Linked DNA regions of Homo sapiens. The protein of the gene in region 3 interacts with the protein of the main gene of each other region in a pairwise test. Each region holds a gene or a part of one and is shown on either strand. Other genes may lie near its edges.

Evidence for each region. Proteins that work in one complex are often made in the same cells at the same time.
Region 1: the proteins of CMTM7 (region 3) and SHISA3 interact in binary tests that used the Homo sapiens proteins (3 or more experiments, as listed by UniProt).
Region 2: the proteins of CMTM7 (region 3) and FRMD3 interact in binary tests that used the Homo sapiens proteins (3 or more experiments, as listed by UniProt).

The regions. Positions count from the first base shown.
Region 1 is NC_000004.12:42,392,838-42,400,505, forward strand, and holds the start of SHISA3 (protein shisa-3 homolog precursor), read left to right. Parts: upstream 1-4,650; 5' UTR 4,651-5,219; coding exon 5,220-5,496; intron 5,497-7,668. UniProt on the Homo sapiens protein: Plays an essential role in the maturation of presomitic mesoderm cells by individual attenuation of both FGF and WNT signaling.
Region 2 is NC_000009.12:83,535,384-83,542,765, forward strand, and holds the start of FRMD3 (FERM domain-containing protein 3), read right to left. Parts: upstream 3,019-7,382; 5' UTR 2,849-3,018; coding exon 2,702-2,848; intron 1-2,701. UniProt on the Homo sapiens protein: Putative tumor suppressor gene that may be implicated in the origin and progression of lung cancer.
Region 3 is NC_000003.12:32,387,775-32,394,863, forward strand, and holds the start of CMTM7 (CKLF-like MARVEL transmembrane domain-containing protein 7), read left to right. Parts: upstream 1-4,078; 5' UTR 4,079-4,132; coding exon 4,133-4,291; intron 4,292-7,089.

The DNA of each region.
Region 1 (7,668 bases), on a different chromosome or scaffold from region 3:
CAGAGAGTGGTACAAAAAGGGAGGGAATGGGCTTTGGGTGGGCACTGCCCTCTGGCTCTATTCACTCTTTCCCCTGTGGCTGCAGACAGGGCAGAGGAAGGCCAGAGGGCCTCAGAGTATGGTCCTCAATGCAGCCACTTGGCATCACCTGGAAACTCATTAGAAATGCAGAATCACAGGCCCCACTGCAGACTTTGTGAGAGTCAGGTCTGCTTTTTTTTTTTTTTTGAGATGGACTCTTGCTCTGTCACCCAAGCTGGAGTGCAGTGGCGTGATCTCAGCTCATTGCAACTTCTGCCTCCCGGGTTCAAGCAATTCTCCTTCCTCAGCCTCCTGAGTAGCTGGGGTTACAGGTGCACGCCACCACGCCCGGTCAATTTTTGTATTTTTAGTAGAGATGAGGTTTCACCATGTTGGCCAGGCTGGTCTCAAACTCTTGACCTCAGGCGATCCGCCCGCTTCGGCCTCCCAAAGTGCTGGGATTACAGACGTGAGAGCCACTGTGCCCGGCCAGATCTGCATTTTAACAAGATTCCCAGGTATTTCATGGCCTTTTGAGAAACACTCTCTAAGGGCCCTAGCTTAAGCCCCTCTTTTGGTAAATGAAGAGACTGAGGCTGCCCGAAACACAGGGCAGGAAGAGGGGCCTGGCCTGGGGCTGGGTTGCCCAGGTCTGAGAGTGTCCTTCTAGGCACCTTGCTATTCTCTAGGGTAAACATGTGCCACAGCAAATTTCAGAGAAAACACCTTTCGAGTAACTCAGATTGAGAGGGGCCTGGAGTAAGAGATTTACAACAAGCGATCCAAGGAAGAGAATTCCATGAAGTCATGGGCAAGGTAATTAAAGGAAAATTAAATTAAAGTGTTTTTTTCTGAATTAAAGGAGAGTGAAAACAAGTCATTGCACAAGCAAACTTGAGGGAGGGTTGAGGAACTCTTGTTTTTCATTTTGTTTCTGAGGCCAATGCAAATGAGCTGGAGTAGACTCTTCCATAGTCCAGTGAACTGCCCTTTTTTGTTTTTGTTTTTGTTTTCTGCATTCCTTTAGCCTTCCTCCTTTTTCCTCAGTATATTTTAGTTCCCAAACCTTTCTGATCCATGTGGCCCTTCACCTCCCTGCTTTTGGTTTTCTCAAATCATTCACTCAGCTCCAAAGAATATAAAAAAGATAAGTCAACAGAACAATTTTTTTCTTTTTTATTTTTTTTGAGACACGGCATCACTGTTCACCCAAGCTGGAGCGCAGTGGTGCCACCGCTGCACACTGCAGCTTCCACCTCTTGGGTTCAAGTGATCCTGCCACCTCAGCTACCCCAGTAGCTGGGCCTACAGACATGTGCCGCCATGCCCAGCTAATTATATTTTTATTAGTAGAGATAGGGTCTCACCATGTTGCCCAGGCTGGTCTTGAACTCCTGAGCTCAAGGGATCCTCCCTCCTCGCCCTCCCAAAGTGCTGGGATTATAGGCATGAGCCACCATGTCTGGCCAGAACAAAGTTTAAAAATATGGTCAGCAAATATGTCCTAAGAATATTAAATGCATCGGCTGGGCGCAGTGGCTCACGCCTGTAATCCCAGCACTTTGGGAAGCTGAGGTGGGCGGATCACCTGAGGTCAGAAGTTCGAGACCAGCCTGGCCAACATGGTGAAACCCCATCTCTACTAAAAATACAAAAATTAGCCGGGCATGGTGGTGGGTGCCTGTAGTCCCAGTTACTTGGGAGGCTGAGGCAGGAGAATTGCTTGAACCCAGGAAATGGGGGTTGCAGTGAGCCGAGATCATGCCATTGCACTCCAGCCTGGGCAACAGAGTGAGACTCCGTCTCAAACAAAAGGAAAAGAAAAGAAAAAAAGAGTTGCATTTCGATTTTATAAGTTCCCTTCAGCCAGCTACAGTTATCTACATGTTGCCAGTTGTGTTTCAGTTCTGCCTAGCCCATCTTCTCATCCCTATTGCTCACCTATCTTTTCTTTTTCCTCCTACCCTCCCTCTTTTCTTTCCCTTTCTTTCTGCCTTTCTCTCCTCTCTTTCTTTCTTGCTGGTGTTTATTAAAGCATAGTCCAGACATCATGTCAATTAACTCACTTCCTACAGAGTTTCCTTGAGGCAGGGCCACAAGAGAATGTATGTAGGCTGGGGAAATGATCTCTTATGATTATGTTCTTGACCAAAATAAGGAATTTGTGTTACTGAGATAAGAAACAATAAAGAATTTCCAAAACCTCTTCATAATACCCCAGATATTGTGGACTTTATTTTCTATCTCTATGTCTTCCCCCTAGAGTCTTTCAGGGGTGTCTATGAGAACTTTTTCATCTTCCTTTACTATTAAACTAGTAACAGAATAACAAAAACTTTGGATGTTTATATATCTAAAAAGAGGTGAATATTCTCTTTCTGTTGGTGAAAAGGATTCTCAGGGCATCAGTTTTGAAGTTAAAATTTGACAATGGAAAGTTTGCAGAGATCTTCTATGACAAGAAACCAAACATATCACTGCCTCCCCCCAACCCCTCGCCCAGGCAAACTCCTGAAGCTGATTGTTGTAATGGTTTTAAAGGTGCTTAGGATGAGGACCTAGATCTGAAGCATGGTGCACAGTTGTTTACTGTTCACACAAGTCAGATCTACGAAGGATCAAGTAATTTGGAGGTTTGGTTACTTTCCATTAGTAAACATCATCCAACTAAATTTGGGTAAAATGCCCTCTAAATAAGTCAAGTAGACAGGAGCTTTGAATGAGGGAATTAATTATAGCTGGTGTCTCCAGGAAAAAGAATCCCACTGTGGCATGGAGAATGTAATTAATGGGAGGTAAGTGCCAACAAATCACTCCTTAAAATATTAATGCTATCAAAGAACAGCTGGATAATGAGAGAAACTTGACCCTTGGGGGACCAGCAAAGGTTGCTGCTGCAGCAGAACTTTATGCAGTTATGACGTAATGAAATTCCTCTAAATTTTAACAAAAACTAATATTAAAAGGTGTGGTTCTGGGAAAGTTATTAGCAGTAAACATGTCATAATTTTTATCATCTGATTATAATCACTATATCTCATTTTTGCTGTGTTTCTAAGTGACATTTTCCTGTAATTGCTCAGGATATATATACAATTGAAACAACACTCCTAAAAAACAACTAGAGTTAAAAAAAAGATTAAGTCTGGCAAGACCTTTTTTTTGTAAATAAAAAACCCAATATCTAAGAAATTTCTGCAAAACAATTTCCCATATGCTTAAACTATTTAACTAAAAAACTGTTTCATTGTTTGTTATTGAAAGCTCCAACTTAATTTGTTTTTACTTAATAGCTTCGTATTGTCCTAAGAAATATGTAACTCTAAGAGAGCAATAAAGTTAAATATTTACACGGTCCCACTTAACGTGTGAAATGGACATGTATTTTCAGCAGCCACATAACTAAATGCTAATCCCAATACCTAAAATTAGAAATCAGAAGTAATTATTTAATTGGAATATACTTTAACTTAGATAAAAAAAAAAAAAAAAGAAATCGTTTTAATAGGAGATTTTTAAAAAAGTTTCTCCGGAATCGACTCGGTTCATCAGGAAGCTGCGAACGTGATAAATGCGTTTGACCGCGCACCTTGTGTCGCTGGAGCTGAGAACACTTTGTTCCTTTTGTTTCACTCAACTTGCCGACATCTAACTCAGGGACACGGGTATGCAGCTTGTTTGACAAATAAGCCGAGATACACCGAACATATTCACACATACCAATAGACGATGATTGGAAGTTCAGGATGCAGTCAAAATAAATGCTTGCGTTTGGCCCAGGTTTCACATAACACCAGTTTCATAAGGCACTTAGGCCGCTAACGGAGCAGTGCCCCTGAAAATAGCCCACAGGGGACACATCATTTAAATAAATGTGTTTCTTTCCCTGAACAGAAGTTCAGTTCTGCTCAATTATCATTAATTTTGCTCCTTTATTTCCTTTGCGGGCGTGAACGGAGAAGTCGTGCTCTTTGAGGTTTTGCGAGCTGGCCTTGGCTGGCAGAGGTGACCGGCAATCCTTCAGCCGGCGGAAAAAGTGCGAGTGTGTGTGTGTGTGTGCTTGTGAAAATGTGCCGTTCCTCCCAGAAAAAGTGGAAACGTAGGTGGAAAGCTCAGCACATGTTGGCGACACCTAAAAACCATGTTCTCGGTCCTGAACCTTTAGAAGCGGTATCCCAGGAACGAGTCTGAGTCTGTGCAACAGGGCACAGATGATTCGACAAACTTCAATGACTGCACCGCATTCATGCATTATATCCATTGAAAAGTAAATCCAGCGTCTCCACTCGCGCGCCCACGTGCGTGGATAAACGCGGGAATTCGGCAGCCCTCAACGTCACTCTGCAGAGATTTCCGGGCTGTGAGAGAGTTGGGGTGTGCGGCGGGGGAGGGGAGGGTCTGATATCTTCAGGTTGAGAGTCAAGTCCTGGGGGAGCGGCATGGGCGGGGGTGGCCGGGGGGAGGCGGAGGATGGAGCGCGAACCAGAAAGCGCAGAGGACCCTCGGCCCGCGCCGCACCCGCTGTGATTAGCTCCAGAGGCGCGATCCGGGAGGGCGGACTCTTTCTTAACCCTCATTGTCTCCTCCTCCCTCTTCCTTTTTAAAAGACGCCTTGCGGGCAGAGCTGTCAGCAACCCCGCGGCCGTTTGTACTTGGCCGCGGCGGAGCTGACTCCTGCTCCTGTGACAGATAGGGGCTGGGGCTGAGCGGCCGCCTGTCTGGGGTACTCGCACGTGGGGAACAAATTCTTTTCCTCCGGCTCCTCTCGGGACCCGGCGATCGCCACAGGTTGGGACTCTGTGCGGCGCTGGAGTTGGCAGCCCCGGGCGCTATGGCTCCCTTGAGGAGTGGGGAGGGAGGTGGCCGGGGGGTTGGCGCGCCCCTCGCGCGGGGAGCGCTATGAGCCGGGCGAAGGGCGGCAGCGACAGCCCCAGCAACTGCCTCTGCCGGCGCCTCCCGCAGGCCCTCGCCAACTCGCCCCGCGCACCATGCTGACTCCCGGCCTGCGGAACTCGTAGTGCAGCCCCTGTCGCCTCCCCGGCCCCTGCTATCCCACGCAGGACTGGCTTCGGCCGCCGGGGCCAGCAGCTTGCGACGTGTCCCTGGGGAGGCGGAATCGCTGTGCGCCCTGAGCCCGGGCTCAGCCCTTCGCTTTCCAGCTGCGTCCTGCTCCCGGCCGCCCAGGGAGCCCAGTGGCGATGAGGGCACTGCTGGCGCTTTGCCTTCTCCTTGGCTGGCTGCGCTGGGGCCCGGCGGGCGCCCAGCAGTCCGGAGAGTACTGCCACGGCTGGGTGGACGTGCAGGGCAACTACCACGAGGGCTTCCAGTGCCCAGAGGACTTCGACACGCTGGACGCTACCATCTGCTGCGGCTCCTGCGCGCTCCGCTACTGTTGCGCCGCGGCCGACGCCAGGCTGGAGCAGGGCGGCTGCACCAACGACCGCCGCGAACTGGAGCACCCAGGCATCACTGCGCGTAAGTGCGGGGCCCTCGGGGACATATCCCCGCCCGCCTAACGGCGGCGGCTGCATGTGTGCGCGGGAGGATGCACAGACCCAGGCAGGTCTATGCGCCTTCCTGGGTCTGTGCGCCAGGGGGACGCGGCCGGGTGGGGGAATCAAGGGATGAGTGGGTGGTCGCGTTTCAGATCATGGTCCTCTATTCATTTGCAGTCCCGCTTCCCGCCACTTGCGGTCTCTGCGGGTCGGCCCGCAGGGAAAGTTTGCCAGGGACAGTGAGGAGCGCGGGGCTTGTGCCTGGTAGCCGGGGGGAAGACAGCTGGAGCTCCCGGGAGAAGGGTAGTGCGGGTAAAGCCAGGGTAGACTTGGGTTTTGGTGGAGGGGCCGAGGGTGTCCCATTGCTCGCCCTTGTCACTTCGGGAGCTTCGGGAAGTGCCGAATGCAGGGAATCGCGACTCTTGTCGCGCGCTCATTTGCAGCCCTTCAGGGCTAAGAAACCCCAGTCACTTTTTTTTTCTGTCTTAATGATAGCGTTTCTAAGCCACGGCCCCGTTCTGCAGACTTCCTTTCAATTCTCTGCATCGAATTACCCTCTCCGGCCCACCCCCTATTGTCACGCCTTTCAGAAATGCCCAGGTCTTCGAGGTGGAGATTTAGAAACAAGGGTCGAAGGGGCTTCCCCGCCCCCTATTCTCACTTCGGAAAACACGGGTCAAATTTCCGCTGACTTCAGAGCGGAATAAATCACGACCCCAGCAGAGAAAATTTACACCTTGAAAAAAAGTTTTCCACCTGAATCGGAACATCAGGGAAACGCTTTAGAGCTTGAGGCGAGGGTTTTATGGCCAGGGAAACCGGAGAAGCGGGCGGAGCTGAGAGCGGGTGACACCCCAGGACTCCAGAGAGCCGAGGTCTGGAGCCCGCAAGAGAAGGTCGCCGGGAAAGGGAAGAGAGGCTGGAGAGATCATTAAGGGTTCCCCAACGGCCCCTCCCCGCAAACTGATAACCCAGAGGACAGGGGAGTCTGCCCTCCATTAGTGCTCCACTAGAGGGTGAATGTTGGGGGTCAACATTTCCAATCTAGAGGATTCTGGAAGTAGTTCTGGAGAAAAGATGCTCAGCGGAAAGTAGGGAAATCTAGGCCCTCCTGGCCTGTTAGAAAAATATAGACTCTTCCCCACGGCTTCACTCGCTCACCCTGGGGGACCCAGCTGCCCTCTGGGAGTAAGTGCAATTGCCCAGTCTGCAGCACGGGCTTCCTCTGCGCTCCCTACTCGGCTCGGATGCCAGAGGACAGCAGAAGGGAGAGGCAGTCTCCACACTCACTGAGTCTGGGATCAGGCAAACCCTGATGGACCTTGGCTCTGTCACTTGCCGGCGGTGTAACTTGGGCAAGTTACTTAACTGCTCTGGATACCTCTTCTCAGTTCTAAAGTGGGCATATTGCTCTCAAAGGAGTTAAGTTGTTGGTGACGTGAGAGTGTATGAATGCTGGAGCGCAGGGCTCAGTAAATGGTAGTTACTTACCTTTGCCTTGCCTTGCACGCTGGTGCTAGTAAACAAGGGAGAATGGGAGGGACACAGAAGAGCTTACGCCTAGTAGCCCACAAATAATTGATAGTTACCTGTCCCTCACTAGCTCTGTCTGTGGGAATGCGCAAACTTCTCTGATGTATTTCCACATCTGGAAAATGGAGCTTATCATGTCCATCTCACAGGGTCTCCAAGAGACTTTAATCAGATAATGAATAAGAAAGAGCCAGGCACACAGTAGGGACTTAGTCAATGCAGGCTTTCTTTCTTCTACCTGTAAGCTGGAGGCTGCGTCTTAGCACGGCTCTATCAGGGGAGAGACCTGGAGAACTGCCCAAGGGGATGCCTCCGGGCTTGGGAATTTTATGTCTGCCTTGTAGAGAGAGAAGGAAATTGGAGTTTGCTCTGTTTGAGGGATGCTTTTATAGAAAGTCTGGGCCGTGGACACCAAGAATTGCCTGGTGATCTATCTAAAGTTCAGTCTGACTTCCCAGGCTTGGATGGGAATTGAGAGGCACGGCAGCTGGAGTGGGTATTCCAAATCTTTCCTGGAAAGAAGCAGCCAGAGCTGGCAATTTGTGGTGTATGGTAGGAGACACAGTCGATTGGGGCCCTCTGTGAATTTCTTTATACTGTTCTTTCTGGAGTCTCATAA
Region 2 (7,382 bases), on a different chromosome or scaffold from region 3:
CAGACTAATGAGCTCCCAAGGATGTGTGGCTTGAGTTTCCCCTACTTATTTTGGGGCTCCATAGGCAGCACTCCTGTAGTGAACAGGAGTGAACAACTAACACATGTCCAAGAGCTCCTGCTCCTCCTACAGAGCCTCTAGATCAAGCTCATCCAACCCATGGCCCAGGACAGCTTTGGATGCAGCCCAACAGAAATTCATAAACTTTCTTAAAACATTATGAGACTTTTTGTGATTTTTTTTTTTTTAGCTCATCAGCTATCGTTAGCGTTAGTGTATTTTATGTGTGGCCCAAGACAATTCTTCTTCTTCCAATGTGGCCCAGGGAAGCCAGAAAATTGGACACCCCTGCTCCAGAGCCAGGCAGACACCAGGGATGAGAGCTCCTAACGCAGACAGGCAGATGTGGGCTATGGAGAGAGGGTGACATTCTGTGACAATATATACAATCCTTTAACTTTGTAGTTCTATAGAAGGAAGGAAGCAAACACAGATGGATTCACCCAGAACAAGTGCCAGTAATTCCAAATGGTTTTGTTTCGCATTGTTTTTTAATCCTTTTGTTCTCACTCTAAGCAAATGGGAAGTCTTTGTTACCTGATACCCGGAAGGGCAATTTCAATTCCTGGTCTGGAGTACTCTAGGAAAGTGTGAGGTCTAAAGTTATCCAAATAAAATATTTTAATTTATTTTAATTGGTTAAATAATAATTGTAATTTGGGGGCAGAAAGGGCAGAAAAAGACAAATCACAAAATGAAACATCATAATTTTTTAAAAATCAGTGCCCAAGCCAACATTTTGAAACATAACATTTTAACCTCTTTGGCACTAGTTGGGTCATAAGCACTGGAGTTTTTCAAACTGTTGTTAGACTGGCTACAATTTATTGTTTCTCAAAACACAAGACAACAAATACATGTCCTTTGGGGAATATTTATTATTCTAAGGAAGACTTCATCCTGAGGGAGGGGAAAAAAATGTCAACACCAAGTGGTACAGGGCAGAAGAGGGCTGAGAGACAGAGGAGAACTCAACAGCCTCTCTCCCTGACGGCCCCTCCATCATCTACACATTCATTATGGGTTAAAGGACCTGTACACCCACTTTAGGACTTAAAGCAAAGTGCACAGTCCACACTCTCTGGATCACAAGACTATTAGTACATGCCAGATGCTTCTGTGCAACCCTTGTGGCAGTAGAAACACTGCCTATCCTGCTAATCCTTTTATTATTAAGTTTAGCAGTGCTGCTTAGCTCAGAATGAAATTCAAGCTCCCCCAGAAAATTCAATGGGAGCCTACTTTCCTGGGAGATCATGGGGCATCACATTCCTACCTTGACACTTGTCCGGCTGTCAGGTTACAAATTAATTGCAACTGCCCCCAACATGTCACACACTCCCACTAACAAAAATTAAATAAAAATAAAACAGGGAAAGTCCTTTCATTCCTTCATGGTTTGCACAGCCTAGAGGCTGATTCCTACTCTGGGAGATGCTGCCCCACTCACCTCCCACTGACATGGGTGGTGTGCCCTGTATTACACTAAAAAAAAAAAAAAAAAAAAAAAGCTCAGTCCCAGAGCCTCAAGACTCGACTAGGGTAGGTGAGAAAGGAAATCCCAGAGATAAACAGTTAAATAGATTTAGAAGTCAGAAGTTAATTGTGCTGAGCCCTGACACAACCTTTCCTGATTGTGTGCGCACCGAGTGGGGCATCTTTGGGGTCCTGGAAGAGGGGCTCCCACCTGCCTACATATTCACCCACAGCAAATATGCACACGCACGCGCAACCACATGCACACACACACCTTTGCACCTCACACTAGCTCTCCTGACAGCCCAGAGGCACTTACTACCCGAGGACAGGGCTGCCAGCAAAGCTGCCTTCTCCCAAACAACTCGCCTTCTCCTCCAACTTGGGCGACAGTGAATGTCCACCAAGATTCCACGGGGCTCTTTTACCCAGGACCCAGGTTCCTGCAGGGCTCCCCACTTGCTGGCCTCACAATCCCTTTTCCTTTCTCCGAAACACTCAGACTTCACACATTCCTTTCGAGGTAGCTCCAGTCCGGCGCAGCGCGCGCTCCATCCCTCAAGGCTGGCGCCCAGGGCAGCCCGGCCTCTCTCACTCTGGGGAAACTTCGCCACCGCCCCACGCGGAGAACTAAAGACCACCGGCGGAGGGTGAGGGGGACCGACACGGAGCGGAAAGCAGGTTCCGGGACTGAGGGCGTCTCCGGAGCCTGGGCGCGGGAGACAGAAATGAGTGAACCCAGCTGATGCATGCCTTCTCCACGTGGAAGAAGGGAGGAAATACCAGTGGGCGACATGCAGGTGCCCCTCTCAGCCCTCGGAGCTCCCATCTCCTGGCGGAGTAGGGCCCAGAGGGGCCAGAGTCCCTCCGGAGGCAGCTGCCCCGCGCCCCTAGCCCGGGCGCAGTGAGACGCGCGCGCAGGGTGCACGCGAGGGGAAGGAGACTGGGCGCGGATAACGCGTGCCTGGCGCTTGCAGGGCACCATGCCCCTCCATGCCAGGATAAGGCCCCCCACCCTCAGAGGCCTGAGGAATCGAAATCTGGCTTTCTAGCAGTCCCCCAATCCCCTCCGGGAGTGGGTTCCTTGTTCTCGCATGCCCACCGCAAAGGCCCCCCGCCCTGCTCCCGGCGTGTGCCCCGCGCCCTCGCCCGGTTCCACGCGCACCTGGATGTGGCAGGAGATCTCCGAGTCGTCCAGCAGCCGGATGGTGCATCTCATCTCCTGGCTGAGCGATTTGACGCTGGAGCTCCGAAAGTGGATCATTTTCATGGTCCTCCTGCCTCTCGGCACACAGTGGCAGGAGGCGAACATGCACCGCGGCCGTGGGGAGCGAGCGGGAGGCTCAGGGCCGGCGCGGTGCTCGCCTGCGCGGACACACACGCTCGCACGCACTGTCCGGGACACCTGGGCGCGGCTCAGCCCCGGGACATCGGCAGCGTCGGGCGCCTGCGGACACACATGCCCAGCGGCCGGGGCGCGGCGGGCGGGTCCCTCCCTCTGTTCGCTCGCCTCCGCCTCGCCCCCTCCTTTCCCCGCCTCCTTCTGTCGCGCGCGCTCGTGCGCCTCCCTCTGCCCGGGCTCGCTCGCCGAGGACGCCCAGAGCCTGAGACCCCCGGCGGGCTCGCGACGCACTCACTCCCACGCGCGCCGAGCAGCTGAAGGAGGAGGCGGAGGGATGGCTGGCGCGGCTGGCCCGGGTGCCCTGGTGGTGGCCTGCTCAGTCGCAGCCGCCGCTGCGTCAAGCTGGGCCCGACTGCCTTCCTCAGCCTCACCGCCTCCTCCCTCCCCTGGCCGCTGTCGCTCGGGCTCCCGGTTGTGCTCGTCCCGGCCCCGGCTCCCCAACGCGCTCGACAGCGCCCTGCTCTGCTCAGCTCCAGGGACCTGGCGCGGGTAGGGGACGGAGAGCGATCCTGACCCACACCGCCAGGGGGATTCCGCCTCGGGAAAGGATTGCTGGGCCCAGGGCGAGTGACAGAGAGAGTGACAGCCCTGACACGGCTACACCAGGAATATCGCTAATAGTAAAAATCTCTGGTACTCATGGAGATTGTTTAAGCCATTGTTTTATTTAATGCTAGCTAGGACTCAGTCTCTTTCTCCAAAAAAGAGCCTTCCATGTGCAAATCCTCCTTTAAATCTCCCAACATCTTAGTGTGATCTTTGATAGCATACCTTTGACCCGAGCAAGAGGGATAGGTTCCTATCCTACTCCCCTGCTTTACAGACCTCCTCCAGTTCCCGGTTGCTCAGGAATTAAGAGGTCTAATGGCAAAGCGGATGTGCCCCATCCCGTTTTAGTCCAATCTCTGGGTATTGAGGACTCTGGAATTCCCCACGCGCCTCCAGGGTGTTGAAGGTAGGAGGTATCCTGCCTCTCTGTTGTCCCCAAGGTGGCTAGAGCCACTGTGTCAGGTACCGTAGGCCCGAGAGTGGCCAGGAGCAGCTGTTGAGTCAGGGGTATGGAGCTTGAATGTGAGCACTAGAATGTCCAGGAGCTGGGAGAGATGGAAGTCCTCTCACCCTGTTGCTCTTGCCGGAGCAGAACAGGTCATTAGGAAGGAACATTTGTTAGAAGAGGAGGTGTTGACCAGCTGTCAGCTTTTTCAAGGTTTGTGCCTGCATAGAGTCCCCTCATCCAAAGATATGCCCTGTCCTGGGGGTCGAGGAAGAGTGGCACACAAATTTTACCTGCCCTGGACAGTCTGGTGGGCCATATATTCTCTAGGACACCTAGTGGGGTTGGCTAAGGTTTGGGGGAGTCCGCATTGCATTTGGACTTCTCTCTCTGCCTGCTCCTGCCTCCTCTCCCTGTTGATCACTAATAAATACCACACAGGACAAACTCAGTCTCAGTATCTGCTCCTGGAAATTCCAAATTGCAACAATTTGTCAAGATAGGAGGATAGAGAATGTTTTATGTAGCACTCAATAGCTGACTATTGCTTATGAATATTTAGATGATAGTATGGGGCATTCATGTAGGCTCTTGAGCTGGGCCCTTCAAATGTTAGGGCAGATCCTGATGGAGAGGTCAGTATTGAGGGTATGGGAAGATGTGGATTTCATTCTTGGCCCAGCTACTGGCTAATCCTGGGGATCTTTGAAAAGTCTCTCCATTTCTTTTCTCATTTCAAAGGAGAGAACACCTGTTCATCCCACAGGTGGCTGGGAAGCTGGTATGACACCGGGTCAGTGGAGGACATCTTACAGCTGTAATCTGTAAATCCCCATATGCACATATGAGGTGGCAGGGATGGGACCTGCCCCAAGTTGAAAACTGGATCATCTCTGCTAGCCAAAAGAGCAGACAGCCCAGAGATCAAAGAAAAGTCACCAGCCAAACAGTCCATGCTTTTCTTTTAAGACCACACACACACTTGTCCATCCTATTATAGTGACCGTTAGGCTCCAAAAGAGTCATATCAATACCCAAAAATTGTTACCCCAAATTCCAAGGAAGCAAAATAAGACCAACAAGGACAGTAGTGAAAAAGACAGAATAAAGATAACCCAATGTGGGACTGTAAGAAACAGAATTTTGAAGAAATGAGAAGAATCTGAGATTGGTTGTCTGGCCTGATTAGGAATAAAGGCTGAGATTCAACTAGTATGAAAATACAGGCTCTGGAAGCACTTGGCATGACAGCTAGGTAAATTACCAAGTATGGTCACCTGGATTGAACTACCCAATGAAGACAAGGCTCTGGGAAACCAACTGGCCATTGTCAACAATAATAATAATAATATGAAGATTAGGAAGAACTCAAAGAATGAACTCAAGGGATGAGTTTAAAACTGGACCACTGAAAGAAAAGTAGTGATGCACTAAGTCCTAAATTATCAGCTTATGACTTTTAAACAACTGTATTTTTACAAACAACAGAGCTCAAAGAATATCTTGTTAATTGAGCCACAAGGCCAAAACTGAAAAACCAAATTCACAATTTCATCTACAAATCGCCAAATTACAAAGTCAATTGAATTATCGGCCTCACAAGATTTTATAATTATCAGCAGGAAAGAGTGGGAATCTGGGAATAAGAATAGGACTATAAAAGAAAACTTGAATGATTCCTAGTCACTCAAGCCCCCAAACTCCCTTGGCAGCAGAAGCATGCCCTCTTCCTTATGTAACGAGGCTGTTCCTGCTTTGTTTGAAGATCCTCTTCGGAACTCACTTAAGGCAGTTACCTTGGAAAGGGAAGCCGATCTCCTCCCACCCCTCTCCCACCATCTCTGACTACTCTCACTCTTAATACTTGAACCAGATTCAGTCACACCCTAGGAGACCAACTATAAAGTCAACCCCAAGAAGAGAAAGAATTGCAAGATTCTGCTAATTTACATTGAAGAGTATATGTGTGAATAAACCTGAATCTGTCCATTTGAATTCACTTCCCAATGACTCTGGTTTCAATGTACTATCTAAATTGACTAACTGACTTCTGGACTCAGCTAAATGAAGATGAGAAAAAGGAAATTCCCTGGTACATGTACAGGAAAAGATCCAAAGAATCAAGGAGATGGAAATATTGCAGTGTATTTCCACATGTGGCCAGCTTACCTCTCTTTAACTGTGTCCCCTGAGGGGGCATCCACCAAGATTTTCAAAGAATCATTGGCAAAGGAAGGACTGCCATCTTTGAAAAGCACCAAAGTGGCTGTTCTTTGTAGCAAGAGATGGTTGTGAAAGACACTGCAGTCAAAAGGAGCTCCCTGACTTAAATGGGAAGGATGAGAGCCTGGGCTGGCAGAAGACAAATAGTGGTGCATGACTTAACCCTCAGTGCCAGGGAGGGCTTGGTACAATCATAAGCAGTGGTACCCAAGTAGACTTCAGAATGGTGTGACTCATAGGGATTTTGCTGGTGGCCAAGCATCCAACTAGGACTCAATTTGATCTATAGGACAAACAAGATTTCTACACCAGGTGAACAAAGGCCAGGCTAAAATCCCCCTACAAATATTCCCAAATCTGAACCTGTCCCCCAAAGACAACCAGAAACATTTTTTTATTTTTTATTATTATTATTATTTTTTACCGATTGGGTCCCACTATGTTGCTCAGGCTGGTCTCGAACTTCTGGCCCCAGTCAATCCTCCTGCTTGAGCCTCCCAAGTAGCTGGGATGACAGGCAACAAACAGAGGACATTTGAGTACAGGAAAGGTGGCTCCACTTGAGGCATTAGAATGTCAGCCATAGCAGTGGCTGCAAGTCCAGTTCTTACTAAAGAAGTGGCAATGGGTGAGATTAATTAGTGTCTCACGCTCAGTGATAGTAACTGATATTCTTTACCAAAAAATATGCCTAACCAATGGGTTATAACACTTTGGTAAGCCACAAATAGATAACAGGTGGCCTGCCCACAAAAGATTGATGGTTGTAAATATTGCATCTTGAATTTTTTCATTTTAAGCACTTTTACAGCCATTAAAATTGATAACTTAAAAAGAAATATTTAGGTATAAATCTAACAAAATATGCACAAGATCTTTATGAGGAAAACTACAAGACTCTGGTGAAAGAAATCAAAGAACTAAATAAATGGAGAGCTATTCCATGTTCATGGATAGGAAGACTCAATACTGTTAAGATTTCAGGTCTTCCCAAATTGATCTATAGGTTAAGTGCAACCCAAGTCAAAACCTGAGCTAGTTACTTTGTGGATATCAGCAAACTTTTTTTAAAGTTTATATGGAAAGGCAAAAACCCAGAGTAGCTAACACAATACTGAAGAAAAACAAACTCAGATGACTGATATTACCTGACTTTAAGACTTAATATAAAACCAAAGTGATCAAGGCAGTATGGTACTGGCAAAAGAATAAACAAATTGATCAGTG
Region 3 (7,089 bases):
ATCACAGTTACTCAAGCCAATGAATTATTTTGTTTTGCTTTTTATTAGTTTGTTTGTTTGTTTTTGAGACAAGGTCTCACTCTGTTGCCCAGGCTGGAGTGTAGTGGCACGATTATGGCTCACTGTAACATTGAACTCTTGGGCTCAAGTGATCTTCCCCCCGCTCAGCTTCTTAAGTTGCTTGGACTACACATCTGGCCAATTTTTTCATTTTTTGTAGAGATGGGGGTCTCACTATGCTGCCCAGGCTGGTCACAAAATCCTGGCCTCAAATGATCCTCCTGCCTCGGCCTTCCAAAATATTGGGATTATAGGCATGAGCCACCGTGCCAAGCCTATTTTGTTTTTTGTTTTGTTTTGTTTTTAAAGACAGGGTCTTGCTATGTTGCCCAGGCTGGCCTGGAACTTCAGGGCTCAAGAAATCTTCCTACCCCAGTCTCCTGAGTAGCTGGGACTACAGGCATGCACCACTGCTCCCAGCTTGAATGAACTCTTCTTTTTGCTTGATTTTAGTTTGTCTCATCAAAAGCACTGTGACTAATACAGAGTCAACTCTAATTTTATTACTTTTTTCATTATATCTGATCAGATATAACATCATAAACACACTGGTGAAGAAGAGTTATAGTCAGAGTACCACTCGAATTGAAGCTTTAAACTGTCAATAAGCCACCTGCAATCCCTCGGTGTAGAGAAAAGGAGAACTTGGACATCTTGATTTCTCACCAGGTATTCAGAGGTCACCTACCTGGTTGGTTCCCTCTTAGAGTGTGACATCTTTAAAGTGGGCTATGAAGCCCTTTGCCTAAGACCTTGCTTTCCCAAGGGGCAGCTATTCACATCTAGCAGACAACACACTAGTGTAGACATCTCAGTGCACTTGGCAAGCCTCTGAAGCCTCTTCTTGTAAGTCAGGCCAGCAATGGCCCTTGCACTGGCAAGCATCTTGCTCAAGCTCTTAAGTGATCATAATAAAGTGATTAACACAGAGTGCCCAGCACAGTGATTACTTCTGATTAGAGGTGGGTGGTGCATTAGTCAACACCAGGCAGAAAAGCCCAGCAATGTTTCTGAGCAGACTCAGGAAGAGATAGTTGTTCTCAAACTTGAGTATGCATCAGAATCACAGAATGATGGTGAAGGGGGGTGGGGAGTGAGGGTGGGGTTGGGAAGACTTGTTAAGACACACACTGCTGAGCCCTACCCCTAGAGTTTCTGATTCAGCAGGTCAGAGTGGGCCCCTAGAATCTGCATTTCTCACAAGTTCGCAGGTACTGCTGGTTGGGGGGCTATACACTGAAAATCACTGTTAGAAGACTGCTGAATTGGACAAAGGCCCCTCAAAGGAGAAATGATCCAGCACTTGGTTTTTCTGCTTCCCTGAAACCCTCATCTCAACAAAGATGCCCTGTTATCTCCACTGTGGGTCCTGAAGCCTTAGACAAGTACAGAAGTGAAATGTACATCTACATAAAAAAATGATACACAGTACTAACTTCATGCCTGTGGGTATAGAGCCAGAAATGTCACAGCACACCTGCATATCTATCACATTGTCACAGCAGCCCCTAGATGCAATTATTCCTGAATTACAGAGAAACAAATGGAGGTACCAGGCAGCTGTGACTGTTGTCTACAGAGAAGACACACGTGGAAGGCAATTTTTCTTGGTCATGAAAATTGTCAAATGTACATAAAGGTGAAATAAATAGTGTAATAAATCCCCAAATGTTTCAACTGCAGTGGACTCTGGCAATGACAGTGGTTCTCAAATTTGAGTGTGCATCAGAATCACCTAAGAGACTTGCCAAAACAGATATTGCATGGGTATCATCCACCAACAAGAATTATTAGGACTTTGCCACATCGAAAACTCTTCTGATGACAAGACAGCACTGGCAGGGAATAAACTCACAAAGATAGTTTTATGTTTCACTTTGCTTTGTTTTGTTCTTGAGGCAGGGTCTTGCTCTGTCACCCAGCCTGGAGTACAGTGTTGTAATCATGACTCACTGCAGCTTCAACCTCCCGGGCTCAAGCAATCCTCCCACCTCAGCCTCCTGAGTAGCTGGGACTACAGGCATGTGCCACCATGCCCAGTTAATTTTTGTATTTTTTTGTAGAGATGGGGTTTCTCCATGTTGCCCTTGCTGGTGTCAAACTTGGGCTTGTGAGCTTGATTTTGGGATTACAGACATGAGCCACCGTGCCCAGCCAGATTTTTTGATGTTATCTCCAAATGAATAAATGTAAGTATGGCCACAGGGACACTGCTCAAAAGGAACATGATAACATACCTCGTTTTGGTAGTCCCGTTTGGGCCTGTCTTCATTTTTATGTTTTTTTCCTTTTCTTTTTCTTTTTCTTTTTTTAAGAGACAGTGTCTCACTCTGTCACCCAGACAAGAGTGCGGTGGCAAGATCATAGCTCACTGCAATCTCGGACTCCTGGCCTCCAGGGATCTTCATGCCTTGACTTCCCAAAGTGCTGGGATTATAGGTGTGAGCCACCACGCCTGGCCTCTTCATTTTTAAAACAACCCAAAAGGGATACAGAATAGAATGTCACTTGGATAGCTGTTTGACAGCTTTTTCTTTTTCTTGTCTTTTTTTTTTTTTTTAATTGAGACAAGGTCTTGCTCTGTGGCCCAGGCTGGAGTGCAATGCCACTGTCATGGCTCACTGCAGCCTCAACCTCCTGGGCTCCAAGGCTCCTCCAGACTCAGCCTCCTGAACAGGCATGTGCCACTGCACCCAGCTAATTTATTTATTTATTTATTTTTATTTTTATTTTTATTTTGAGACAGAGTCTCGCTCTGTCGCCCAGGCTCGAATGCAGTGGCGCAAGCTCTGCTCACTGCAAGCTCCGCCTCCCGGGTTCACGCCATTCTCAGCATCCCGAGTAGCTGTGACTGCAGGCGCCCGCCACCACGCCCAGCTAATTTTTTGTATTTTTAGTAGAGACGGGGTTTCACCGTGTTAGCCAGAATGGTCTCGATCTCCTGACCTCGTGATCCGCCCGCCTCGGCCTCCCAAAGTGCTGGAATTACAGGCGTGAGCCACCGCGCCCGGCCCAGCTAATTTATTTTTATTTTTTGTTTTTTGTAGAAATGAGGTCTGGCCATGTTCCCCAGGCTGACAGCTTCTAACAGAAGCAAACATATGCTCCCCTTGTAACCAGTGCGTTCACTTGCAGATATTTGTCCCAGAGAAATGAGAGTTTGTATCCACCAAAAAAACGTGTACCATAATAGTGACTATAGCCAGAAAAGAGATGAGGGAGGGGGGAAAGGCCGGAAGGAGGGAAGGAGGCAGGCAAGCAGGTAGGAAGGAAGCAAGCTTGGTGTCCATCAACTGGGTAAACGTTTAAAAAATACGGTATCTTTGCACAGTGGAGTACTACTCAGCAATAAAAAGGAAGGAACTGATATGAACTACTTATATTCCCAACAGGATGGATCTTCTAATTTGTTATGTTGAAGGAGAATATTCTGTATTACTTCAAGTTTATGAAGTCCAAGAACAGGCAAAATGAACCTACAGTGACAGAAAGCAGAATACACTGTAGTGGTTGCCTGAGGCTGGATAAGGATGGGGCCAGGGAAGGAAGGTAGGTCAGGAAGGCCCACCACGGAACTTTCTGGGGTGATGGGCACGTTCTATTTGTTGATCTGGGCGACGGTTACACAGGTGTACACATATATAAAAATTAGTGGAGCTGAACACGTAAGGTCTGGGCATCACACTTTATGTAAGTTAAACTTCAGTAAAGTGCTCTCAGCACACATCCGCAGCCGCACCCACACAAAATCCCAGGAGGCTCAGTACCAGCTGTGGTCCGGGCCTTGCCCACCTCGGAGAGGCCACGACCCAAGGCATCCGGTTTCCTCTCGCTCCAGTCTAACTTCCGCGCATCTACGAGGGCCGGGACTGCCGCTACCTTTCTGGAAGGCGCCGGCCGGCCAGTCACCGGAGGGATCCCGCCAGAGGCGGCTCCGCGTCTCCAGCAGCGGGGCAGGGACCCGGGCGCCCCGCCCTCGCCAGCGCCCGCCCCCGCCCGCCCCCGGCCCGCCCTCTGTATCTGGCCCCTGGGCAGCTGCCCGGGGAGGCGGCCAGCGAGCTGGGGCCGCGCAATGTCGCACGGAGCCGGGCTCGTCCGCACCACGTGCAGCAGCGGCAGCGCGCTCGGACCCGGGGCCGGCGCGGCCCAGCCCAGCGCGAGCCCCTTGGAGGGGCTGCTGGACCTCAGCTACCCCCGCACCCACGCGGCCCTGCTGAAAGTGGCGCAAATGGTAAGTGAGCGCGGGGCGCGAGGCCGAGGTTCTACAGGGCGTCCCGGGAAAGCAGGGGTCCGGGAGCGGACGCGCCGGGCGTCTGGACCCGGCCGGAGCCCAGGGAGCATCGCGCAGCGGGCGGGGCACCGCGTCGCTAAAGTTCGCGGCAGGCTTCCTCCGGGAAAGTTGCTGCCGCAGCCCCCGCGCTGGAGCTCAGTCCCCAGAGCCGCCCCGGCCCTTGCTCCCGCGGACCCAGGTCGCCAGGGTCGCAAGTTTCTCCGGCCACCCCCCTGCGAAGCCTGACCCGCCTACTGACTGAAACCACGGGCAAAGTTCCTTTTCGTCTTTCTTCCTCTTCTCTGGGCCGCGCCGCTTCGAACCCGAGCCGGGGGTGGAAGAGTCGCCCAGGCGGCGGCGCTGAGGGAGCGAAACCCGACCTCTTCCCCGTCCACGGCCTCCTCTTTCCTCCGAACCCAGCGCGGCAGGGCTTCCCTGCTCTGTGTGCAGTTTCGCTCGAAGGAGGAGGTCAGAGGGTCTTGTGTTCCATAGTGGGGAAAAAGAACTGGGACCGTTGAGACGGCCGTCCTGGTCCCCTGCGCCCTCAAGTTCCGAGGGAGGGCCCGGGTCTCAGGGGGCTCTGGAGGGCAGGGGGTCAGTTGGGAAAGGCCTGTTGTCAGGGGCTGGTACTCATGTAGGGGAGCCAGACTGTTGAATGGGAGTCACCCGTGGAGCCAGGCAGGATGAGTGTCTGGGCTTGGATTGTGACCAACTCAGCACAAGGGCCTCCTACCAGGGCAGACGTTGCCTGGCCGATTCTCTTGTTCCCCACTCTTTTCTTTTCTCCCCTCCCGTTTTTTTCTTCTTTAAAAGTTTGTAATCTGAAACAACTTTTCCGTTTGTATGATGTGTTTTGAAACTGGGTTGGGCTGTTTGTGAGTCTCCACCATTGTAATGTTTGCACCAAGAACGGTGGGGAGGGGAGCGGTAAGTTTCAAAAAGAGGTGTGGGGAAAGGAGTGTGGGGCTGGACAAGGTCACACACCCAGAAGCTGGGGCCTGCTAAGGTGGCCTGGCCCCAGGGGGTTGGGCACAGGACGTCTGTGCATCTATAGCACTGCCATTCCAGACACTGAGTGTGCATGAGGTGGCCCTCATGTCTTGCTTGGGCCAGACCTAAAGAGAAGGGGCGCTGAGTTCCTGCCTCCCTAAGAACGGTGTCTAGATAGACCAAAAACTAGGAAGAGCCATTTCAGCAACGTACAAAAAAATCTGGTGCTGAGCATTGTTGGGTTTGAGCAGGGCATTTTTTGGCCCAGGCTAAGAGATTTGATCAGCCAAATAGAAGAGACCAGCCCATCTCACCATCCTTAAAAGATGGGCTGGGGTGAGACATATCCTACCTGAGCATTGGAAGGGATGAGTTTGGTAGACAGAGAATGGGATCAGAAGCCTCCATCTTGGCCCCTGAGTTTGCTGGACAAAGATATTGTGGGATGAAAAGTCTTCTTGTTGGTCTATGAGTTTGGTACACAAACATAATGGAGATGAAACCTCGGCAACATAGCGAGACCCCATCTCTACAAAAAAAATTTTAAAACCTTGTGTGGTTGGCATGGGCCTCTAGTCCCAGTTACTTGGGAGGCTGAGGTGAGAGGATTGATTGAACTGAGAAGGTCAGTGAACTGTGCCACTGCACTAGTCTGCGTGACGGAGGGAGGCCTGTCTCAAAAAAAAAAAAAAAAAAAGGTACAAAGAAAAGGTAATGGAGATGAGAAGCCTTCATGTGGTCCATGATTTTGATGAATAAAGATACTGGGAGATGAGAAATCTCCATCTCATCTTAAGCTCCTCAGCTAGCCTCTGGCCTGTGGTCCTTGGGCCAATTTGCAAGTGGCAAGAGTGGGGCCTGTTGTTCCAAAAAAGAGAACAAAGACTTGAATAATTTCTTTATCTGGTTGCTTATTCTCTATGTGCTCCTCTTAAAACCATGCTGAGGAGTCTTACACCTGCCCTGGAGGATTCCCCATCACTGCTGCAGGCTTGTTTGATCAGACCCTCTGGGAGCAAAGTTGCCCTTGCAGGATGGCTGTATTAGTCCTAGTTAGGGCTATCTACTTGGGCCTCTTATCTAACTCCTCCCTATTTTCCCACTTCTCCTCTTTTCTAAGACTCTGCTTGGGCATTTGAGGTTCATTTGTCTTCTTTGCTGGAAAATGCTTGTTTAGCCAAGTTTTAACATTGGGGAAGGGCAGAAGCAGCTAAATTAATGCCACCCATTGGGGCTTTCTTTCTATGGGTCTCTCATTTTGACCATCAGTTTCTCAGTTTCATACTGAACAGGTTGACCCTTTTGTCCTCAGCTTCTCATGAAATGTTTTCATCATGATCTGATCAATAGATCTGCCAACACGTTGTCTTAAGAAATCATTGCAAAGGCTGTTCCACTGGAGAATGACTTCCCTTGTCTTGGCCTCTTCTGGGTCCACCATTACTAGAAAATGAGTTTCTGAGTGAATGTGTGTACTTGACATGTCATTTATACATGTGTAATTTTTATAATCCTCTGGCCATGATAATTCAGTTTCTTTGGTCTTCCTTTTTGGAGTAGAGACACAGTCACAGGTTTTGACTTTTGACTTTAAAGCACTCTTTTTTTTCTTTCTTTCTTGAGAGGGAGTCTTGCTCTGTCACCAGGCTGGAGTGCAGTGGAACGATCTCAGCTCACTGCAACCTCTGCCTCCCGAGTTCAATCAAATCTCCTGTCTCAGCCTCACGAGTAGCTGGGACTACAGGCACGTGCCACCACACCCAGCTAAT